Linked DNA regions of Homo sapiens: region 2 is linked to region 1. The links come from fine-mapping of genetic effects on gene expression. Tissue or cell type: whole blood. Region 1 holds a variant in brackets; the other region holds the start of a gene. All regions are shown on one strand. Distances are from middle to middle.

Region 1 (2,756 bases):
GGAAGCAACCCACAGTGGAACAAATCCAGACAGCTGAAAGGGCCTGCCCCACATGAGGGATGAGGGAAGTTTCTGGGGTGGCAATCATGTCCTATACCTCAGCAGCAAGCAGACAGATAATACTGTAGGTAGTTCACTGCATGCAAATTTTACCTCAAAAGACTGAAAAAACAGAAACTGAAGAACCTAGGGGAGGGTGTGCCACTGTCTGCAATTAACCTGGAAACAGTCACATGTTACACAACATTTCGGTCAACTACAGATGACCACATGTGAGATGGGGCCCTACAGAGTCTCACACTTGACCACATGTGAGATGGGGCCCTACGGAGTCTCACACTTGACCACATGTGAGATGGGGCCCTACGGAGTCTCACACTTGACCACATGTGAGATGGGGCCCTACGGAGTCTCACACTTGACCACATGTGAGATGGGGCCCTACGGAGTCTCACACTGTATTTTTACTGCATCTTTTCTGTGTTTAGATCTGTTTAGACACACAAATAATTCCCACTGTGTTCCAGCTGCCTACAGCATTTAGTGCAGCTCTTGCTCCTCGCAGCCTAGGACCCACAGGCTGCGCCACACAGCGGGGGTGTGTAGCAGGCCACGCCATCTCGGTTTACGAAGTACACTCTGTGGTGTTAACAAAATGATAAAATCACTCAAAGTCAAGGCACAAAAATACAAAAGTGCCCAGTACAGAAAACAAGCAGGTGGTTTACAAGCCACAGAACATAAAATTACTCTTAAAGACCAAAATGTGTCCATATAGAAACACTTAAAATAATGTAAAAATACAATTTTAAAATATCAAACCCTGTTTTATAACTGCCTGTGAGCTGCTCTAAGCAGGTCTATGACTTTTATCATTCCCTACGTGCATGACCTCAAACAAAAGTCTCTCAAGGTCTCGTTTTCCTCATCTGAAAACGGAGACAAATAATAATACTGTTCTATGACTTCAAAGAGCTATGGAAAAACCAAACAAAACACACAAGTACTCCGTAACTCACGTAAAACGCTACACGCATGGTAATATCGTAGCTGGTCTGGCACCAGGAATGATGACCTCTATTGGAGACTGTGACAAAAGCAAACCCCAACGGGAAAGAGATGTCACTGGGGATCTGCCCTGTCTTCTGAGTGTCCCCTCAGGGTGGAAATGCTGGGTCACATGGTAGCTCTACGTCCCACTTTCAGGAACTGCCTTCCCATTTCCGCACAGCAGCTGCACTGTTTTTGTTCCCCTGG[C/G]GATGTGTACGAGGCTCCAGTCTCCCTGCATCCTCACTGGCGCCGCCCGTCTTTCTGATTACAGTCATCCCACTGGGTGTGGCCTGGCAGCTCTCAGAGGTTCTGATGTGCATTTCAAGTGACTGATGCATTAGTCATTGGTGACTAAGTCACTGGTGATTAATGACCTTGAGCATCTTTTCATGCACTTACTGGTCACTTGCGTATTTTGTTTGGAAGATTTTTCAAATTCTTTAAACATTTTAAAGAATTTGAATTGGATTGTCTTTTTACTGTTGAATTGTAATAATTCTTTATATATTCTGGATATTAGGCCCTTATCAGATGTATTATTTGCTAGGTTATGGTTGTTTTTTACTTTTTTGAGAATGTCCTTTGAAGTCTAAAGTTTTTAATTTTGATGAAGTCCAATTAATTTTTTCCTTTGGTTGCTTATGCTTTTGTTGTCGTATCTGAGAAGCCACTGCCTAATCAAAGGTCGTGAAGATCACTGCTGTGCAAAAATATACGATCAAGCGAAATGTCAAGTATTCATTTAGGAAACACGGATTGAGCTCCTGGGGTGCAAGGAACGCTAGTGATGGAGAAGGCCCACGCCCTGACGCACTTCGCCATCAAATCGTTTGGTAAACGCAGTGAAAGAAATGTACAGTCTGCTATGAATGTTTATAAAAGGGAAATCTGATCCACCGTGAAGTCCAGCAGTGAGAGGCTTTAGAGAAGGCGGAAACCTTTAAATGAGTATAGACTGCCAGGAGTCGAGGAGAACCTTCCAGCAAAGGAAACGGCACCCATGGGAGGCCTCAGTGGGAAAGTGCCATGGCATAGGAAGGACTTTTCTACAGTCCAGCCTTGGTACGAAAGTTCTGAAGCGAGGCTGGGTAGGGAGGCCATGTTACCCCCACAGCACTATACATCTTGTAGGCTTGGCTGAACAGTTGCACAACTCAAACTCTGCCTATCTTCAGCAATAGGATGCCTGAGGTCAGAGGCTCCCCTCTTGGTTAAACCAGCTAAGACCAGCAGGATGCTAAGTGGAAGTCCACCTGGCCTTTGCAGGGCCTCCAACTTCATTACAACCTCATTTGCATGCTCCGTGACACTCCCACCAGTGCCACAGCGGCTGACAATCACCATGACAATGACGGGAAGACGCCGTAAAAGGACAAAAAGATGGCAGTGCTTCAGCTCCCAGAAGTTCACCGTCCATTTCCAGAAAAGCCATGAATATTCTTCCCCTTGCTTTCAATGTCCAACCCCTTCATTCAAGAAACCCTCTATTTCAATCCCCTCACCCCTCAGGAGTAGAGAAGTTGATTTGTGAGCCACACTCCTGCTTCTTCATTCCTTGGCCTTTACATACAGCTTGCTCTGCTCAACACTTACTTTCGGTTTCATGGATGGGATCCACAACACCCAAAAGGAAAAGTTCCCATCTTTTGAGGCTACAGAGTTTATTGGCAACAAACACAATGAGTGAAAAGAGAAGCTGGGCTACT
Region 2 (2,610 bases), 82 kb before region 1:
GACCTGGAGCCCCAAAGGGGAAGGGTACCCTAAGACCAGCCAGCCATCTACTCTCAGGTGGGAAAGGGGTAGGGTTTAGATATGGCCCCCTCCCCTCCACGTCCTGAAATTACCTTGGGCTGTGCTGGCCGAGAGCCGCGGGGACCAGATTTGAGCTGGACGTGAGCTTTATTCCAGACGGAGCAGCTACTTTGTAAGCGATCTCCCTGGGATCGATATCATGGAGGGGCACAGATGGGCTTCAGCTGTGCTGGGTGGAAGAGAAAACATGCCCTGTCGGCCCCTCAGCAAGTGCTCTGCTCTCTGGACTGAGATGCAGGTCAGCAGCAAGCAGGGAGGCTTTGGGGGTGCTGGGGGCTGCTTTGAAAGGCACCCCTGAGCTAAGACTTGGCTGTTGGGAAGGAATCACCTCCCTCCCTCCAGCCGTAAAAAGAACTGGACATCAGCTTCCAAAGAAGTCATCAGCAATGCAACTGTTCACATGGAGGATACTCCCTGCTTGAGGGGTCAGACAGGCCTGCTGGGCAACCCAGGAGGCTTGGATGACCGTCTACCCCAGTGTTTTTGGGATGGAAAGTTCCACATTCTGAGAACCCTCAGTCCCTGGGCAACCTGGGGTGGTTAGTCACCACAGCTTGTGGCTTGGGCCCATGACAGCAGGTAGAAATGACGTGGACTGCCGCCAGCCGGGCACAGTGGCTCACGCCTGTAATCCCAGCACTTTGGGAGGCTGAGGCATGTGGATCACTTGAGGTCAGGAGTTCGAAACCAGCCTGGTCAACACGGTGAAACCCCATCTCTGCTAAAAAAAAAAAATATATATATATAAATTAGCCAGGCATGGTGACGTGCACCTGTGGTCCCAGCTACTCAGGAGGCTGAGGCACAAGAATCACTTGAACCCGGGAGGTGGAGGTTGCAGTGAGATTGCACCAGTGCACTCTCCAGCCTGGCAACAGAGCAAGACTCTGTCTCAAACAAACAAAACAAAACAAACAAAAAGACGTAAGATGTGGACCGCTGGAGAATGGGGGTGCTGCCTGCAGTCAAAACGGAGTGGGGGTGCCCAGCTCAGGGCCAGAATGATCCTATTCCCGGCACTTCTCAGTGAGGCTCTGTGGCTCACCTAAGAAACCAGCCTCCCTTGCAGGCAACGGCCTAGCTGGCCTGGTCTGGAGGCTCTCTTCAAATATTTACATCCACACCCAAGATACAGTCTTGAGATTTGACTCGCATGATTGCTATGGGACAAGTTTTCATCTGCAGTTTAAATCTGTTTCCCAACTTACATTAGGGGTTTGGAATTCTAGATCGTATTTGAAGTGTTGGTGCCACACACACCTTAACACCTGCACGCTGGCAACAAAACCGTCCGCTCTGCAGCACAGCTGGGGTCACCTGACCTTTCTCCTGTCCCCCCCACTTGAGCTCAGTGGCTGGGCAGCAGGGGATGCATGGCCACTGGCCGGCCAGGTGCAGCTCTCAGCTGGGGTGTTCAGAGGACGCCTGTGTCCTCCCCTCCCCCATCCCTCTGTCACCCTTGGAGGCAGAGAACTTTGCCCGTCAGTCCCATGGGGAATGTCAACAGGCAGGGGCAGCACTGCAGAGATTTCATCATGGTCTCCCAGGCCCTCAGGCTCCTCTGCCTTCTGCTTGGGCTTCAGGGCTGCCTGGCTGCAGGTGCGTCCGGGGAGGTTTTCTCCATAAACTTGGTGGAAGGGCAGTGGGCAAATCCAGGAGCCAGCCCGGGCTTCCCAAACCCCGCCCTTGCTCCGGACACCCCCATCCACCAGGAGGGTTTTCTGGCGGCTCCTGTTCAATTTCTTTCCTTCTAGAAACCAGCATCCAGGCACAGGAGGGGAGGCCCTTCTTGGTGGCCCAGGCTTTGGCGGGATTATTTTTCAAAGAACTTTAGGAGTGGGTGGTGCTTTCCTGGCCCCCATGGGCCCCTGCCTGTGAGGTCGGACAAGCGCAGGGAGTCTGGGGCCTCTCAGAGTGCAGGAAGTGCGCACAGGGTGCTCCCAGGCTGGGGAGCACAGGTAGGGGACGGTGCGTGGGGGATGGCGCCTGGGGCATGGGGGATGGGGTGTGGGAAACGGCATGTGGGGCGTAGGGGATGGGGTGTGGAGGATCGGGGGTGGGGATGGCGTGTGGGGTGTGGGGGATGGGCCGTGGGGGGGTGGGGCCTGGGAAACAGCATGTGGGGCATGGGGTGTGGGGGTGAGGTGTGGGAAAGTGTGTGGGGTGTGGGGGATGGGGCATGGAAAGGGCGTGTGGGGTGCAGGGGATGGGGCATGGAGGTGTGGGGGATGGGGTGTGTGGGGTGTCGGGGATGGGGCATGTGGGGTGTGGGGGATGGGGCATGGAAAGGGCGTGTGGGGTGCAGAGGATGGGGCATGGGGGGGTGGGGATGGCGAGTGGGGCTGGGGCCTGGGAATGGTGAGTGGGGCATGGGGATGGCGAGTAGGGGGTGTGGCGTGAGGATGGCTAGTGGGGCGTGGGGATGGCGTGTGGGGATGGCGAGTGGGGGGTGGGCTGTGAGGGACAGTGCCTGGGATGTGGGGCTGCAGCCCTAGCTCACAGCATGGCCTTATGACCCCGGCCACCTTC

Evidence for each region. PIP is the estimated chance that this variant, and not a neighbour inherited with it, causes the effect.
Region 2: it holds the start of F7, and the variant in region 1 is fine-mapped to the expression of F7 in whole blood (TOPMed, PIP 0.98).

Annotation. Positions count from the first base shown.
Region 1 is chr13:113,186,181-113,188,936 of GRCh38, forward strand. All of the region lies in intron 7 of PCID2 (PCI domain containing 2), which reads right to left. Among named protein-coding and RNA genes, the nearest start is that of PCID2, 21 kb to the right of the region's middle. RefSeq lists enhancers at 901-2,100, 1,275-1,569. The variant C/G (reference allele first, on the strand shown) is at 1,258.
Region 2 is chr13:113,104,226-113,106,835 of GRCh38, forward strand. F7 (coagulation factor VII) reads left to right here and starts at 1,566. Exons shown (of 8, transcript NM_019616.4): 1 at 1,566-1,680. The coding sequence starts at 1,617.